Linked DNA regions of Homo sapiens: region 2 is linked to region 1. Evidence: fine-mapped expression QTL. A gene starts in region 1. The other region holds a variant in brackets. All regions are shown on one strand. Distances are between the middles of the regions.

Region 1 (9,894 bases):
GTATAAATTTATTTCTGGGCTTGAAAGACTCAATGATCGTGTTTAACTATCAGATTTAAAGCATGCATACCAAAATATTTTATATATTTTTTCACTCTTCTAAGTTATATATAGGTACCATATATTATATATAAGATAAAAGTAAATCAAAATAGAAATAAGAATAAAATAACAAATATACAAATGTTATAAATATGGAATATATTCTAAACTCATAAATATCTTCTTTTGCACTCTGAATAACAAATTGTAGGCCAGTCCTTGTAGCTAAATTCTTATTTTGAAACATTTAAAGCCATCTTTACACATTTTTTTCTTTCCCTATGTTTTTCAAGATTAATCTTCTGAAGTGGGAAAACTAGAATTATATCAGGGACTCCCCAGGGTAAAATTTGATTCTCAAATCTTTATTCTTTTTCCCCTGAAATATAAAACATGACATTATATACAAAAGGAGTCTTGCTTTCAAATCAGGATTTTTGCATTAGACTATTTAATATATCCAACATTTATTCTGCTTATTGAAACTACATGTATATGATATACCTAGGTAAATATTACAGAAGGGACTTCTTATTTTCTCTTTACAGTCAAGTGTAATATGATTAGACACAAAGTTGATATTTCTCCAGCTAGATTACTTGATGTCAGGTATTTTGAGGTCTCATGTTTCAGGTAGGGGAAAAAAATATGAAGAAACCAGGTTTTGCCGAAGGTCACCCTTAGAATCAGCGATAAAATCAAGATGTATGAGTTACTAGTCTGTATTTTACCAGAATTTGTTTTAGATAATTTCATCAAAACACTATCTAATCTATCTGAAGATAGTAAATTTCAAGAAGTAAATTAATGTATTAATGACTGTTCTGAAAATATATGTATTTTTTAACTTGTAAAATGTGTTAGAGAAAAAAATGAGACACTTAAGAGATCCTCCCAGGTATCCTCCGAGTGGGGATAAAACGTCCACTAGAGGGCATTTCTCCCTGGACGCTCTGTTGTCAAGGCTGTAAGCTCATTCCCCAAAATGCTATGAACTCATTTTATCAAATTGGGAGTAACTAACTAACTAAAAAAATTGAATGTGAAGTATTCTGATGCTTCCAGATTCACACAAATAAGATCAGAACCACCTTTCCATTTCAAAATTGACAGAATTTGAGAGGCTATCCATTTCTGATAACTCTCCTAGTGTCAAGCATGTTGCATGTGTACTTTTTTTTAACCACTAAAACAAATTTGAAAGTAAAATGTTATTATACAAATTTAGGGAGAGATGAGAAAACTAGAGTCAACTAATCTATGTGTATTGTGCTCTTATTGTCATGATTTCTATGTGGTTTCATGCCCAATGACGTCTTTGTATAAAAAATATACAGATAGATATAACTATGCTTATTTTTCTTATGTGTGTTATGCGCTGTTTAGTTGTATATGTTTCAGCTGTATGTTCTAATATCCATATACATACTGAAATGATTACCACAGTGAATCATGCTAACGTATCCATCTGTTTACATAGTTACTCTTCTCTTTTTGTGTGTATGTGTGATATAAGTGTCTGAAATCTACTGTTAGTAAATTTCTAACATGCAATACAATATTATTAACTATAATTCTTCTGCTATGCTTTAGACCTCTAGACTTATTCACCCTACATAAGTGCAAGTTTGTATCCTCAGACCTACCACTCCTCATTTCCCCTGCTCCCCATCCGTGGCTGGTAACCACCATTCTACTATCTGCCTGTATGAATTTGATTTTGTTATATTCCACTTGTAAGTGAGATCATACAGCACTTATTCTGTGACTATATTATTTCAGTTAGCTTGATTCCCTCAAGGTTCATCATGTGGTCACATATTCTATAATGTTCGGCTTTTATATGGCAGAATAACATTCCATTCCATGGCCGTTGCATAGTTTTCGGTAATTGTCTAGCCATCTTAGGTATTCCTGGTTGTTTAGAAGCATCATTCTTATTTCTGCCTTTATCTTCATATGGTGTTCTGTGTGTATGTGTGTACCTTCATGTCCAAATTTCCTTTTTACATGAGAATACCAGTCACAGTAGATTAGGGTCCCATTGTACTCTAGAATGGCCTCTTCTTAACCTACCTAATTATATCTTCAGTGACCTTACTTCCTAATTAAGGCACATTTTGAAGTATTAGGGGCCTTCAACATAGGGCTTTCTAGGGAAACATTTCAACCTACAATAGTCACTTTATGTTTTACTCTATGATTGGCACTAGACTGGGTCCTCCAATAAATAGATGAGCCATTCTTGCTCCTTGCTCTTTAGAATACTACGTGGAGTCCAAGAAGAACAGAGAGTGATTAATTGGGAAGATGTTGCTTCAGACAAAAAAAAAAAAAAAAAAAAAGGAAAAATGGCTTTAGATTGGAGAGTGACCTAATTTAAAACCGGTTCTGAGAAAAAACTTCATGTGACCTTGAACAATTTATTTTACCATTTTTTTGTTTCTTCACATAGAAGATAAAATAGAAGATAAAATTATTGAATTGGATCTGTCACTGCCCAGCAATAATGCACATTAGACATGGATTTTGTAGAAACACTATAGTAGATGATGCCTAAACCATCTTTCAATTCTAAGAGGTTGTCACATGCATCTGGAAGAGCCTGAGAATGCTTTTGAGTTATACGTTGAGCTTGACACCAAATACTGACCAACTTGGTAACATCCCCTCTTTCCTTACCTCCATTCCTTTTCAATACATATGTTTCTATGATATATTGTATGTTTTTATGATATAATTGCTAGGCCTCAAAATTTTGAATCCTACTCTAAGACATGTGAGGTGTGACTGATGCTTAGAAAATTATGCTGATAAATTATAAAAACATCATAAAACCAGGATTTATTATTGTTTTTTATTCTAGGACTATTTCATTCTAAAATTATTGTTCTTTCCTCTACTATATGATCAAGTCTCTATAGCTTTTGAAAAATTCAACCTCTCTAAATATTTTTCAATTGGATTTGGAGTGTTTTAAATGTTACTTGAGCTTCATTTTTAATTTTTTAATTTTTAAAAATGTTTTCTAACGGGCATGAAGCATAATAAGATTTTTATATTCTTTATTCCTTCCTTGTGCAGCTAGGACAGGACAGTTTTCTATATTTTTGGGAGAAAGAACAATTAGATAGATTGTCATCATAAACTCTTGTTGTCAAAGGACAGTTTAATTCCATTGTCAAGTGCTGATGTCTTTGGTGCTAACTGCTGAGCGTTAAGAAGTTCTGTTCTCACTGCCAGAGGCTTACTCATGTTAAATTCTTGTCAGCCTCCCTAATCATAAGCTGCTTAAATGAGGAAAAAAAACAGTAACAGTGCTTCCAAATCTGAACGAAGTATGCTATATAAAGTTGGTGGACATGGTAACAAGACTTGCCAAAGAAATATTCTAGCCAGCAGTGATACGGCATCCTGAGTAACGAGCTTAAGCAATTGCCTAGACCTTGGTGTGTCATCCTAAAAGTAAAATGGAAACATATACCTAAAGAAACAAAGAAATAACAACATTTAAATTATTGAAACGAGCAATAGATAAAGTGATATATTTGGATCTTCTACCCTGAAATAAGCCCCTCTCTGCCCTGGTGTCATTTCAGGCCAACGAGCTATACCTAGTGATTCCAAAGTCCACATATATTTACTCTGTTCTCACTGTACAAAGTAACCACTCTGAAGTCAAGTAAGTCATTGTCGATAGATAGTACTAATTACATTAGGTTTTATATATGTGTGTCTGAACATACTATATAACAAACATATACAGTACACAATTTTGCCTTTTATATACTTGCATGTGTGCATATATATGTACATATGCAATCATGCATAGTTAATGGCACATGTATACACTTGTGAAATAGAATACCTACCAATTGCTAATGAAGGGATTTCTCTGATACCAATTCAACTTGTATGGGGAAAGCTACTTACCTGCTTTATTTCTCAATTTTCTCATCTATGACACAACGTAAGCAGGTGCACGTTATGTGTGTTGTCTCCTAGCTCTTAAATCAGAAATCAATTTTATAACATGAATTGCACTTATCCAATAGGAGAAACACTTTCTAGCTTCAGAGTATAATTGGTATAGTTTTACATTGCAAGTAACAGAAGCCCCATGGAGCCAAATTGATCAAAATACGGTATTTCAGAAGGATGAGGTGGATCTTACCTCAGGCATAGATGCGTACATAGATTCCAATGAAAATAATGTGGCACTGTCTTCTTGTAGCTCTGCCTTTTCTTCTGTGCTGGGCTCTTATTTACCTGCTACAGGCTGATATTCTCCGTATGGTTGAGTATACGTCCAAGCACTGCGAAGCTTCACCTCTACCTGGCCTCCAACACACCAAAGAGGCTTTTAGAACTGCCGTTAGAACAGTCCTGGGAGAGCTTGGATTTCTGAGTTGAGACAAGTGTAAACCCTTAAAGCAATCAGTCAAGCTGTGTGAACAATTTTCCATGATACTCTGGACTAGGATGACCCATCCAAGAATTGGCAGGAAACCAGCTGGACCAGCCATCCTTACACAGATTTATTTCCCCATATTTCAAGGAAGTGAGCCATTTTGCTTGATCCAGCACATACTTATCTACAGTGCTTAAAACTAAGAACTCAGATACAGTGTCTTAAAGGCTTATTTCCTCTTACTCTTCAACATGAGCCTCTGCTTACCATTGTCAATCACTATGAATTTTCTTGTGTTTCATATTTTCTTGACTCTGGCTTATCTTGATAATTTCCTCCTCTTCCTAAAGCCCTTAGCATGCCTATCTTGTATACTTTGCCACCCACAACTCCAGATTTTCTCTACAAAACGTTGAAACAAATAAATACACATAGAAACAAAACAAAAATAATAACTTAGCACACCTCTCTAGTAAATATTGTTTTCCTCAATGCTGGTGTCGAGAAATATTTTCTAAACTCCCACAGTGCCCTAGATTTTTCTCTGTTATTGCACTTACTACAAGATACAGTGCTTTTTCTTTCCTACTACCAGACTCTTGCATAAATAAGGCATGTTTTGATTTAAAGAGACATAAACACAAATTGAAATATTTAAAAAGAAAAAAAACTGGAAGGATCCCAGTACTTCCATAACTACCAGAGAGTTGTCTTCATATTTCTTGTATTTGCTGACTTTGAATGTCCATTTTATGCTCTCCTTTTCCAGAAAAGCTGGGATACATGAAGACTGCCATCCCTTGAGTCACTTGCCCTGTAGCTGCCACTGTTGGAAAAGGGCTTGCTTCTGTGTCCTTGTGCCCACTTTGAAAATCCCTGGGAAGTCCTTGGAGTCAGATGAGCAGGCCTCCGCCACTCTGCCAAAAAGTCTGTTCAGTGAGTTTAGAATCATATAGAAAAGACATGGATGTGGGGGATCCTGTGCCATGTATTTGAAACAGTAGCTGCCATATAATATGCTTTCGGTATATGAATGAATTCAAAAGGATATTATCATGCTCATACCTTCTAGATCAGGAGTCCCCAACCCCTGAGCCATGGACTGATATGGAGCTATGGTCTGTTAGGAACTGGGCTGCCCAGGAGGAGGTAAGTGGCAGGCAGGCAGAGCATTACCACCTGAGCTCCGCCTCCCATCACATCAATGGCAGCAGGGCACTAGATTCTCATAGGAGTGTGAACCCCACTGTGCATGTGAGGGATAGAAGCTGCACACTCCTTATGAGAATCTAATGTCTGACGAGCTGAGGTGGAACAGTTTAATCCCAAAACCATCCTCCTGCACCCACAAGTCTGTGGAAAGATTGTCTTCCATGAAACTGGTCCCTGGTGCCAAAAAGATTGGGGTCCACTGTTCTAGAACTTAAACGGTGAAAAAGTTTCAATTGTAGACTCATATAAGTTGCCAGTTGGTGTAAAGCACTGGCTTTTCTCCCTTTTGGAGAATGCTTAGGAATAATTGACTTTTTCAGATTTCAGTTTTCTGCACTTTTCATCTGTGTAAAAGGGTATTTATGATAAGGATATGTGCGCTAAAGGCCCAGATTCCAGATTAATAGCACAAAGCTTTCTTGTGAGTTAATACTATAATTATACTTTTTTCCCTTAAGGCTGTATTTTTTTTCTGATTTTCTGATATTTTTCTCCATAGCCAAAATGGTGTTTAAGAAATTAAAGGCCAGCTTGAATGTGGAAGCTCAACTATAACTACAGGGCAAAAAACTAAATCTTGTCATAATATTCATGAGTGGTTATTAATAATGAGGACTTGCAACACTTTTATCTTGGCCATGGAATTAAAATATACAGATTACTTTCCATTAACATTAAGATACCATGAATAAAAGACCAAGTTTGTAATAATTAGAGTAGGTTTCAGAATTTTGCCCTGCACTCAACTCGTTACTTTTTTTAATTTTATTTTTAATTGTTGCAACCTCTGTGCCTCCATTTCTAATTTATTTATACAACGACGATTTTAATGCTTTTCTGACAAAAAAGTCAAAGGGGTAATGTGAAAGCAAATACATTTTCTTGTTTTAATGCATAGATAAACATAGTGCCAGTTCTCCTGTGTTAACTTTTTTTTTTTCCCCATCTTCAAGCAATGGTGCTTCTACAATTTCCTTATAGGAGGAGTGAAGAGTAAGCATTTGGATTGGACCAGGATTTGGAGAACTTGTCATGTTGCTCTACGTGCATATGAAATACATCATTGTAACTTAGAATGTGAATTACAGAACAAACATGAAAGTTAGAAAAATATTCTAAACATATTTTTATGATCTCTACTTGCAATAAGGAAACTGTTAGGCTTTTCCATCAAAGAATAAGTGCAACAAAAACAAAAATTTCTGGATGGAAAAAAGGAGATTTGAGGGGCAAGGCTAAAGCCCCCCAAACCTTCCTCAGGATGAACACAAACCCCATCTTTATTTTCCTGTTGCCACTGTTCCATGTTGCTGGGCTCTATTCCAGCAAAATTTTGGAAAGCGTTGCTACAGTTCTGCTCATTTCTTTCTCACTTCAGAACAATGATGCCCTTTCCAGATAAAGCATCTTAATTAAACAGATGACATTTGAACTAGACCTTGAAGAACAGGTCAGAGTTATATTGGGAAAGAAGTAGGAGAGGAACACCCAGAAAATAACATTTATGAACATAAAGGCACAGAATATAAATGTCTCTGACAAAGACAGAAATCAAGGGTAAATTTTAGTGTGGCATAGATTAATTCACTAACTCAATATATATATATTTACATAGAGAGCATGGATAGATACTAGAAATAAAACAATGGATTAGACATGGGCAACCTCATGATGTTTAGCAAATATTGTGTTCTTTAAGGCAGCAGTTCCCAACCTTTTTGGTACTAGGGACCGGTTACGTGGAAGACAATTTTTCCACAGACTGGGATGGGGGGACTGTTTTCAAGACAATTCAAGCACGTTACATTTATGGTGCACTTTATTTCTATTATTACTGCATTGTAATACATAATGAAATAAGTACACAACTCACCATAATGTGGCATCATTGGAAGCCCTGAGCGTGCTTTCCTGCAACTAGACAGTTCCCTCTGGGGCCAATGGGAAACAATGACAGATCATCAGGCATTAGATTCTCATGAGGAGCCCGCAACCTACATCCCTCACATGCACAGTCCACAATAGGATTCATGCGCCTATGAGAATCTAGTGTCATGGCTGGCAGATATAACAGAAGATGGAGTTCAGGCGATAATGTGAGTAAGAGGGAGCGGCCAGAAATACAGATGAAACTTCACTCACTCACTTGCCACTCACCTCCTGGTCTGCGTCCTGGTTCCTAACGGGCCATGGATAGTTACAAGTCTGTGGCCCAGGGGGTTGAAGACCCCTGCCCTAGAGTACATATGCAGTGGATGTTGAGAAACAGATTAATTCATTAATGCAGAGTCTTCATATTCCAAACAAAAGATTTGAGGGTTTTATCTGTTATAACAACACTTGTGTTTCACTAATTATGTCAGGCACGACTCTAATAACTTCAAATTTATTCACTCACCTATTATTAGAACAACATTATGATATAGGAATACACTTGATATGTCCATTATACTGATGAGGAGATTCAGACATAGAGTAGTTATTTAACTTGGGTAAGGTCTTCAGAGCTAATAAGAGGAAGAACCAGGACTTGAGCATGGGTAGGGTGGCTTCAGAGTGGTAGTCTGGCTGTTTGTTTGTAATCACCAAAATGAAGCTACAGTGATGTTTCAGTTTACATAACAGAGTCCTGAGGCTTAAAGATGCCAGGAAATTAATTTAAAGATATTGTAGTACGTATCCCTGTCCAGACTAGAACTCCAGTCCAGGAGAACGCCAGTGCTCCTTCTGTTTCACATAGAGAACACATCAGTACTGTGACACACAGAAAGGTTTTAGTGGGATGCTTGGTTAAGAGAAATACGTTTACAACAAAAGAGGTGATACTGTTGCTTGTCTTAGAAAAATATGGGAGACCTCAATCAGCTGAAGTTCAACATGTTCAAAGGTGGACAAAGTTTCTCGTTGCTCTAAGTAAGTTTAAAATTGAGCCAAAAAGGTCTTGATTGATAAGGGTGGCTGATACATTTTTGAATGTTTTCACTGGCATGATTCACAAAATTGTATAAATTGTATAGTCCCAGGCTATCCCACCATTAACTGCCTCATGGGGACTGTCTCTAACTTCCCCAGGACTTGATCCATAGGGAAATGCTTGCAAGAATAAAAAGCATTAATGAATTCAGGATTCGTTTCTCACTAAACAGCAGTTTGGGGTGATGTCACACACACACACACACACACACACACACAAAAATGGAACAAGCCAGCCCCATTTTCAGCATTGCCTCATTTAAGCTTGGCACACAAAGACAATTGATGCTGACTCAGAGTTATTTCAAGATGGAAAGAGTGTCCTGAATTATCACACCCCACGTAATCCTAGCCACCCTGTATTCCTTCTCCTTACTGTCCCATAGGTGGGTACATCCATCCCAGATAACAAGGTTTGACTCATTTAAGGCCCTTTTCCTTCTGCACAAGATCCTGAAATTTTCCCTACCGTGTGTGTTTGATGGTGCAGAAGAAATAATTCTCAAAAATAAACTAGTTTATCATTAGATGGAAGCAAGGTATCACCTTTATTAATGAGAAAGCAGAGTTTGAAGGACATAGTGCATTCCTCATGCAGCTAGACCCTCTGCTATTGGCTCCTGCCTTTAAATTAGAAAGCCTTACTTTTCCATCTGCAGGTATTGCTATCCCTTTACAAGCCTCTGCTCCCACGGAAAGAAAATTGTGCAACATACGACAAAAAGCAATAGAGGCTTCAGACTCTCCAAAAAGAAAAAGAAATTATGTCAAGAATGTAGTTTATTATTTCCCAATTGACTCTAAGATTAAATTGACTCTAAGATTAGTCAGTAACTTTTCCATGATGTAATGAGTAATGAGACAGAGAGAAGCAGAGTGTTCCACTAATTGATCTCAATCCACAAGAAAGGAAAAGTATTTCCTCCTTCCTTCCTCCACATTGTGTTCTCTTAGAACTGTGCTTTACTTGCCCAGGGAAAAGAACACAAGTTGAGTTTAAGAAGCCAGTTCTTCCCATTCCAAGATGAGGCCCCACATCCAATGCTAACACTACTTCTTGGAGTGAATACACTTTAGAACTATCAATGAATGAACTGAGCTGAACTTCCCCAACCCCTGTAGACTCTAAAATGGGTCAGAAGAGCACATTGGTTAAAACAAGTCTAAGGCTGAAAATTTAATCTCTATTTGATTTTCTGGCTTACATTTTTTTTCTCAGTAACCTTGCCAAAATAGCCTAGTAGGAGATCCATTTT
Region 2 (9,894 bases), 40 kb after region 1:
CGGCTTGGTGACTGAGCTTGTTCTAATTTAACTTCTACTCCAGACCACCTTTTTTGTGACCTTCAACAAATCACTTGTCTTCTTTTATTTTGCTTTTCTCATCTGTAAATGAGACATCATCATATTTTCTCCCTAAGTTTGTTGTCAAAAAGCCAGTCACATAGCATTTAGGTAGCAATGGTAGATCTTGATTCAACAGTAAAATCTGTCCCCACCCATCTTATAAAAATTTTCTTATTAACCCAAGCCTCTTAATTCCTAATGAATCATGCTAATTTCCTCAAGGTTATCACTGCTGTACTTCAGTTGGCTGATGTTTATGGATGACTAAAGACTTTGCTGATAACTGTGAAAAACTGTAACAATTATCTTTGACCCATAAACTTAAACAAAACTGCATACTTTATTCCATTTAATCAAAATATCTACTTTTTCCAGGTGAATTAATAAGTTTTAAACACCTATGACAATAAGATGCTTTTACAACATTTTGCTTAATGAAATCAATCCTGTAATATTCTCCCATTTCTCTGGTAAATAAAACTCTATTCGTCCTTCCAGTTTGAGCTTAAATATCTTGTTCATGAAATATTTTTCAAGTACCCCAGTAAACTGACTTCCTTATTCACTGCCTGTTGCAATCACATTTAAATTTCTAACACATTGCTCTAAGCTGCCATGCATTATCTGTATTCTCCCCACTAGGTGGCAATTCAATAGCAGGGTGTGTTAGAACTATTTCTATGCTCTCCTTAGCCTCATCTTCCCACACAAACTATGCCTACCACTATGTTTTCCACATATGGGGTGTTTTGTTTGTGGCCTTAGTGCTTGTTGAATTTCATTAATGTCATCTCTCCCTGCTAGACTGTGAGTCCCCTAAAGAACTCACAATGGCAGAAATTATACTTTTATTTATGTGTTAATTTGTGTCAGGCCTCTGAGCCTAAGCTAAGCCTTCATATCCCCTGTGACCTGCATGTACACATCCAGATGGCCGGTTCCTGCCTTAACTGATGACATTCCACCACAAAAGAAGTGAAAATGGCCTGTTCCTGCCTTAACTGATGACATTCCACCACAAAAGAAGTGAAAATGGCCTGTTCCTGCCTTAACTGATGACATTATCTTGTGAAATTCCTTCTCCAGGCTCATCCTGGCTCAAAAGCTCCCCTACTGAGCACCTTGTGACCCCGACTCTGCCCGCCAGAGAGCAAACCCCCTTTGACTGCAATTCTCCTTTATCTACCCAAATCCTATAAAACGGCCCCATCCTTATCTCCCTTCGCTGACTCTCTTTTCGGACTCAGCCTGCCTGCACCCAGGTGATTAAAAGTTTTATTGCTCACACAAAGCCTGTTTGGTAGTCTCTTCACACTGACGCGCATGAAATTTGGTGCCGTGACTCGGATCGGGGGACCTCCCTTGGGAGATCAATCCCCTGTGCTCCTGCTCTTTGCTCCATGAGAAAGATCCACCTACAACCTCAGGTCCTCAGATTGACCAGCCCAAGAAACGTCTCACCAATTTCAAATCCTGTAAGCGGCCTCTTTTTACTCTCTTCTCCAACCTCCCTCACTATCCCTCAACCTCTTTCTCCTTTCAATCTTGGAGCCACACTTCAATCTCTCCCTTCTCTTCATTTCAATTCCTTTCATTTTCTAGTAGAGACAAAGGAGACACGTTTTATCCGTGGACCCAAAACTCCGGCACCGGTCACGGACTGGGAAGGCAGCCTACCCTTGATGTTTAATCATTGCAGGGATGCCTCTCTGATTATTCACCCACATTTCAGAGGTGTCAGACCACGCAGGGACCGCCTGCCTTGGTCATTCACCCTTAGTGGCAAGTCCTGCTTTTCTGGAGGAGGGGCAAGTACCCCAACCCCTTCTCTCCATGTCTCTACCCCTTCTCTGCTTTTCTGAAGGACAGGCAAGAACCCCTCAACCCCTTCTCCTTCACCCTTAGCAGCAAGTCCCGCTTTTCTAGGGGGCAAGAATCCCCAATCCCTTATTTCCATGCCCTGAACTCTTATCTCTGTGCCTCTACCCCTTATTTCCGTGCCCCAACCCCTTTCCTGCTTTTCTGGATGGTAAGAACCCCCGAACCCCTTCCCTCTGTGTCTCTACTCTCTCTTTTCTCTGGGCTTCCCTCCTTCACTATAGGCAACCTTCCACCCTCCATTCCTCCTTCTTCTCCCTTAGCCTGTGCTCTCGAGAACTTAAAACCTCTTCAACTCACACCTGACATAAAATCTAAATGCCTTATTTTCTTCTGCAATGCTGCTTGACACGAATACAAACTTGACAGTGGTTCCAAATAGCCAGAAAACGGCACTTTCAATTTTTCCATCCTGCAAGATCTAAATAACTCTTGTTGTAAAATAGGCAAACAGTCTGAGGTGCCTGACCTCCAGGCATTCTTTTACACATCAGTCCCTCCCTAGTCTCTGTGCCCAGTGCAACTCATCCCATATCTTCCTTCTTTCCCTCCCACCTGTCCCCTCAGTCCCAACCCCAAGTGTCAATGAGTCTTTCTAATCTTCCTTTTCTATAGACTCATCTGACCTCTCCCCTCCTCGCCCGGCCGAGCTAGGTCCCAATTCTTCCTCAGCCTCCGCTCCTCCACCCTATAATCCTTTTATCACCTCCCCTCCTCACACCCAGTCAGGCTTACAGTTTCATTCCGCGACTAGCCCTCCCCCACATGCCCAGCAATTTGCTCTTAAAAAGGTGGCTGGAGCTAAAGGCATAGTCAAAGTTAATGCTCCTTTTTCTTTATCCCAAATCAGATAGCGTTCAGCCTCTTTTTCATCAAATATAAAAATCCAGCCCAGTTCATGGCTCATTTGGCAGCAACCCTGAGATGCTTTACAGCCCTAGACCCTAAAAGGTCAAAAGGCCGTCTTATTCTCAATATACATTATATTACCCAATCTGCTCTCGACATTAAATAAAACTCCAAAAATTAAATTCCAGCCCTCAAACCCCACAACAGGACTTAATTAACCTCGCCTTCAAGGTGTACAATAATAGAGTAGAGGCAGCCAAGTAACAGTGTATTTCTGAGTTGCAATTCCTTGCCTCCACTGTGAGACAAACCCCAGCCACATCTCCAGCACACAAGAACTTCCAAACACCTGAACCGCAGCAGCCAGGCGTCCCTCCAGAGCCGCCTCCCCCAGGAGCTTGCTACAAGTGCCAGAAATCTGGCCACCAGGCCAAGGAATGCCTGCAGCCCAGGATTCCTCCTAAGCCTCCTCTCGTCTGTGCAGGACCCCACTGAAAATCACACTGTTCAACTCACCTGGCAGCCATTCCCAGAGCCCCTGGAACTCTGGCCCGAGGCTCTTTGACTGACTCCTTCCCAGATCATCTCAGCTTAGCAGCTGAAGACTGATGCTGCCCCATCGCTTCGGAAGCCCCGTAGACCATCAAGGATGCCGAGCTTTAAGTAACTCTCACAGTGGAGGGTAAGTCCATCCCCTTCTTAATCAATACGGAGGCTGCCCACTCCACATTACCTTCTTTTCAAGGACCTGTTTCCCTTGCCTCCATAACTGTTGTTAAGTATTGACGGCCAAGCTTCTAAACCTCTTAAAGCTCCCCAACTCTGGTGCCAACTTAGACAATACTCTTCTAAGCACTCCTTTTTAGTTATCCCTACCTGCCCAGTTCCCTTATTAGGCTGAGACACTTTAACTAAATTATGTGCTTCCCTGACTATTCCTGGGCTACAGCCGCACTGCATTGCCACCTTTTCCCCCAGTTCAAAGCCTCCTTCACATCCTCCCCTTGTATCTCCCCACCTTAACCCACAAGTATAAGATATCTCTACTCCCTCCTTAGCAACCGATCTTGCACCCCTTACCATCCCATTAAAACCTAATCACTCTTACCCCACTCAATGCCAATATCCTATCCTACAGCATGCTTTAAAAGGATTAAAGCCTGTTATCACTCACCTGCTACAGCACAGGCTTCTAAAACCTATAAACTCTCCTTACAATTCCCCCATTTTACTTGTCCTAAAACCAGACAAGACTTACAGGTTAGTTCAGGATCTGCGCTTTATCAATCAAATTGTTTTGCCTATCCACCCCACGGTGTCAAACCCATATACTCTCCTATCCTCAATACCTCCTTCTACAACCCATTATTCCATTCTAGATCTCAAACATGCTTTCTTTACTATTCCTTTGCACCCTTCATCCCAGCCTCTCTTTGCTTTCACTTGGACTGACCCTGACACCCATTAAGCTCAGCAAATTACCTGGGCTATAAAGCCGCAAAGCTTCACAGACAGCCCCCGTTACTTCAGTCAAGCCCAAATTTCATCCTCATCTGTTAC[G/C]TATCTTGGCATAATTCTCATAAAAGCACACGTGCTCTCCCTGCTGATTGTGTCCAATTAATCTCCCAAACCTGAATCCCTTACAAAACAATGACTCCTTTCCTTCCTAGGCATGGTTAGCGTGGTCAGAATTCTTACACAAGAGCCAGGACTGCACCCTGTAGCCTTTCTGTCCAAACAACTTGACCTCACTGTTTTAGCCTAGCCCTCATGTCTGTGTGCAGCAGCTGCCGCTGTTTTAATACTTTTAGAGGCCCTAAAAATCACAAGCTATGCTCAACTCACTCTCTACATTTCTCATAACTTCCAAAATCTATTTTCTTCCTCATACCTGATGCATATACTTTCTGCTCCCTGGCTCTTTCAGCTGTACTCACTCTTTGTTGAGTCTCCCACAATTACCATTGTTCTTGGCCTGGACTTCAATCCAGCCTCCCACATTATTCCTGATACCACACCTGACCCCCATGACTGTATCTCTCTGATCCATCTGACATTCACCCCATTTACCCATATTTCCTTCTTTCCTGTTCCTCACCCTGATCACGCTTAATTTATTGATGGCAGTTCCACTAGGCCTAATTGCCACACACCATCAAAGGCAGGCTATGCTATAGTACAAGCCACTAGCCCGCCTCTTAGAACCTCTCATCTCCTTTTCATTGTGGAAATCTATCCTCAAGGAAATAACTTCTCAGTGTTCCATCTGCTATTCTACTACTCCTCAGGGATTATTCAGGCCCTCTCCCTTCCCTACACATCAAGCTCGAGGATTTGCCCTGACCCAGGACTGGCAAATTAGCTTTACTCAACATGCCATGAGTCAGATAACTAAAATACCTCTTATTCTAAGTAGACACTTTCACTGGATAGGTAGAGGCCTTTCCTACAGGGTCTGAGAAGGCCACCGCAGTCATTTCTTCCCTTCTGTCAGACATAATTCCTCAATTTAGCCTTCCCACCTCTATACAGTCTAATAACAGACCAGCCTTTATTAGTCAAATCAGCCAAGCAGTTTTTCAGGCTCTTAGTATTCAGTGGAACCTTTATATCCCTTACAGTCCTCAGTCTTCAGGAAAGGTAGAACAGACTAATAGTCTTTTAAAAACACACCTCACGAAGCTCAGTCACCGACTTAAAAAGGACTGGACAATACTTTTACCACTTTCGCTTCTCAGAATTCAGGCCTGTCCTCAGAATGCTACAAGGTACAGCCCATTTAAGCTCCTGTATAGACGCTCCTTTTTATTAGGCCCTAGTCTCATTCCAGACACCAGACCAACTTAGACTGTGCCCCCCCAAAATCTTGTCATCCCTACTATCTTCTGTCTAGTCATACTCCTATTCACTGTTCTCAACTACTCATACATGCCCTGATCTTGTTTACACTGCCGGTTTATACTGTTTCTCCAAGCCTTCACAGCTGATATCTCCTGGTGCTATCCCCAAACTGCTGCTCTAAACTCTTGAAGTAAATAAATAATCTTTGCTGGCAGGACTATGCTGAATCTCCTTAGGCACTCTCTAATCAGATGTCCTAGGTCCTCCCAATTCTTAGACCTTTTATACCTGTTTTTCTCCTTCTCTTATTCCATTTAGTTTTTCAATTCATACAAAACCATATCCAGGCCATCACCAATAATTCTACACAACAAATGTTTCTTCTAACAACCCCACAGTATCACCCCTTACCACAAAATCTTCCTTCAGCTTAATCTCTCCCACTCTAGGTTCCCATGCCGCCCCTCATCCCACTCGAAGCAGCCCTGAGAAACATCGCCCATTATCTCTCCATACCACCCCCAAAAATTTTCACCGTCCCAACACTTTACCACTATTTCATTTTATTTTTCTTATTAATATAAGAAGACAGGAATATCAGGCCTCTGAGCCCAAGCTAAGCCATCATAACCCCTGTGACCTGCATGTGCGCAACCAGATGGCCTGTTCCTGCCTTAACTGATGACATTGTCTTGTGAAATTCCTTCTCCTGGCTTATCCTGGCTCAAAAGCTCCCCTACTGAGCACCTTGTGATTCCCCACTCTGCCCGCCAGAGAGCAACCCCCCTTTGATTGTAATTTTCCTTTATCTACCCAAATCCTATAAAATGGCCCCACCCTTATCTCCATTTGCTGACTCTCTTTTCGGACTCAGCCTGCCTGCCCCCAGGTGATTAAAAGCTTTATTGCTCACACAAAGCCTATTTGGTAGTCTCTTCATAGGGATGTGCATGAAATTTGTTTGTGTGTTTGTTTTTGTTTATTCATTAATAATCCATCAATCTATATCAAGGACATATAAGGAGATAGAAAAGAGAGAGGAGAGTGAAGAAGAGGAGACTAGAAGCAACAAGAAGCACTTGCACTGGAAATAATCCCTCTTCTGCAACAGGCATAGCATTGAGGTATCGAGGACTAAATAAAGGGATCTGTTTTGATCTTCAGTAGGAATGAGATTGGAAACACTGACTTTCTAAATGTGAAGCTATAGTGGGAGAATTAACAGAAGAACCAACATTTGAGGAACAAGTCAAATAATCAGGGCTGACTTTCACAATGACTGGAGAAGCAAACCTGTCATAAGAAGGGCAAACACACAAAACCAAGCTAGAATCTCAAAAAGCCAGGGACAAGTGAATATTCTGAACAGGTCATGGCACAGGGCCTGTGACAACCCTGAGCTAGTCTAAACAGCCTTGCACTTATTATCACTCGTGAAGCCTAGGACAGGACACCTTAAATTAGGTGGTACTAGGTGGGAAATAACAGTGATATTGACAAGACAGAATGTCAAGATCTAAGTGAATAGGAAGTATATGGAGTAGTGGTTACAGTGATTAGGGTTGGAGATATGACAGAATACAAAACATTCAAGGAGAATTAAGAGATAAGGACATAACAGAAGCACAAAAGAATTCATGTGAGTTAAGTAGGGAGGCATTCTAGTCCTAAAAGGAAAACAGAAAGAAACTCCAAAGCTACTGGTTATATTTAAAAATTATTTAACAGCTTGGTGAGTGAGCTTGTTCTAATTTAGCTTCTACTCCAGACCACCTTCGGTGGAGGGCGGTGGGCAGCATAATGCCATATACCTACGTCATAGCCACTAGAAGATTATAATAAACTTAACCTTCAAACAACTGATAATTAACTTTGAAGTGATGTACCAAAGGCAATATATGTTTCACAGACTGAGAAAGAGTGGCTAAGTACGTATGCCTCCTGTATCAAGATGAAGTAACTACCCTTCTCATCAGATCTGGAGAGGTCTCCAAGCTGTATCTGCCACCTTCTAGAGGGATCTAAAATAAAATTAGCATTCTAAACCAAAGTAGGAGAGTCAAGGACAGTTAAGAAGCCAAACAATTCACAGGACCCAAATGTTAGGTTGTGCTGTTCTGAATTCTCTTCAAGGACGAATGAGGGCTTGTATAGAAACTAGATGGCCCTGAGGTGAAGTTTATCCACACCCTCAGATGCAGGTGACTGGAAAACAGAAGCTGAAAGATGGAAATGTGGCCATGTCCCCTCAGTGTTTTTGAGATAAATGTATTTTATCATCTAACTCATTTAACTCATTTATTTCATAGAATACTCATCTAACTCATTTATTTCATAGAATACTCATTAAAAGCAGAGAAAACAGGAATGGTCCTGGGCCAGAAGATTTACTATCTTGAACACATTCAGTTTGCTAATTAAATACGCATCCATCACCCAAATCTATGAAGATTCTACTTGGCAAGGCCATTAAAATATGCAAATAATTATTCATCCAGACTTAAAATGTTTACCCCATCTTAGCTTCAGCAGTAGAACCCTCTAAAAAGACAGATCTAAGACACCCTTCCATCCTTTTTCTCTATTTTTATACTCCAACAAATGAAGAAAGTGTTCTGAAACATAACTCATTGTTTTTGTAAAGACGACTGAAATACAAACCTTGGTTTTTCTACAGGTTCTATGAAAAGCTTGACTATATCTTTTCTTTTATTTTTTTCTTTTCAGCTTGATGAACACCTGTTTTCGAAGTCCTGAATCTGTAGTCATAAGATTCAGCCCTGTTTCCTTCCAAATCTTGACTTCATATTCAAACTAGAGAATAAAAATTTAAAAACAGGCCCTTGTGCCTAGGATGTAGAAAAATTACTAATTGTTTTCCTATGTCCCACGTAAAATACCAAACAGTTTTTAACCATTATGAAAATGTATCGTAAGACAGCTTCAAAATAAAGTATTTTCATGTAAGTTTAAATATTATGGCTATTTTTCTTCTTTAGAATAGTCTTATGTTACAAAGAAACCTTTTGGTGCTGTAAGAATGCAAGGGAAACATAAAACTAAGAGGAAAAATACAAGCAATTTTTTCCACTGCACTCAGTTTAAATAACAAATCAGCTGCAGAATAAGAGCAGCTTGTTATAACCCTCCTATTGTTATATGTGCTGCTGTAAAATCCTTCTTACATAATTCAAAACACATGACACATAATTGACAGACAGATATAAAACATATTAATAACAACGGTATCACTAACAGTAACAGGAAATATGGAAATCCCTCTCTCAAGCTTGACAAGGCACTTCTCTGCTTAGTGTTTAGAGACTCCCTTGGAAATACCTGCAAAGATTTTGAGGAAAACAAGCTTCACATAATAAAGTAGTAGGTGGTAGGTAATCTAATAAAGTGTGAAGGTTCATACAGCTACTTGGGAGGCTGAGGCAGAAGAATTGCTATAACCTGGGATGCGGAGGTTGCAGTGAGCCGAGGTCGGGCCACTGCATTCCAGCCTGGCAACAGAGGGAGACTGTCTCAAAAAAAAAAAAAAAAAAAAAAAAGATCCTGTAGGAAACTTAGTATATTGAAAGACAGATACTCAAATACGTGTACATAAAATGTTCATAGCAGCACTACCTACAATATCTAAAAAGTGGAAACTGCCCAAATGTTCATCAACAAATAAATGGGTGAACAAAATGTGATAAGTACAAACAATGGAATATTATTAAGCCATTAAAGGATATGAGGTATGGAAACATGCTATACATGGATATACCTTAGGCACATTATGCTAAGTGGAAAAGCCAAACACAAAAAGCCACAGATTGTATGATTTCATTTGTATGATTTCCAGAATACGAAAATCCACAGAGAGAGAGAGAGAGCAGATGGGTGGTTGCCAGGGGCTAGAAGTGGGGGTGAGGAATGGCATGTGACTGCTTAATGGGTATAAGTTTTTCTTTTGGAGTGAAGAAAATGTTTTGCAAGCTGACAGAGGTGGTGGTTGCACAATATTGTGGATGTGCTGAATGCTGATGAGTTATATACCCTGGTGTTTTATTGCACAGCCCAGTAATGATAATTAATAGCAGTGTTTGAATTTTTCGAAATAGCTAAAAGAGAGAATTTTAAAGGTTCTCAACAAACAGAAATAATAACTTTTTGAGGTCATGAGTATGCTAATTAGCCAATTTGATCATTTTGCAATATATACATGTACTGAAACATGATATCCATAAATTTATACAATTATTATCAAAAATA

Direction of the effects. Positions count from the first base shown, and alleles are read on the strand shown. Sizes are in standard deviations (SD) of each study's normalised expression.
With allele G in place of C in region 2, the expression in tibial nerve of the gene that starts at base 4,382 in region 1 is higher (large effect, 1.6 SD a copy in GTEx).

The links. PIP is the estimated chance that this variant, and not a neighbour inherited with it, causes the effect.
Region 2: its variant is fine-mapped to the expression of LINC02360 in tibial nerve (GTEx, PIP above 0.99). The same link has a PIP of 0.9 or more in aorta, atrial appendage, esophagus muscle, gastroesophageal junction, lung and thyroid.

What each region holds. Positions count from the first base shown.
Region 1 is chr4:11,765,087-11,774,980 of GRCh38, forward strand. It overlaps LINC02360 (long intergenic non-protein coding RNA 2360), which reads right to left and starts at 4,382. Exons shown (of 4, transcript NR_146995.1): 1 at 4,217-4,382. It overlaps LOC107986178 (a long non-coding RNA gene), which reads left to right. Exons shown (of 5, transcript NR_188483.1): 3 at 5,223-5,389; 4 at 5,526-5,602; 5 at 6,619-8,789.
Region 2 is chr4:11,805,354-11,815,247 of GRCh38, forward strand. No RefSeq gene overlaps it. Among named protein-coding and RNA genes, the nearest start is that of MIR12113, 27 kb to the left of the region's middle. RefSeq lists an enhancer at 723-1,352. The variant G/C (reference allele first, on the strand shown) is at 4,351.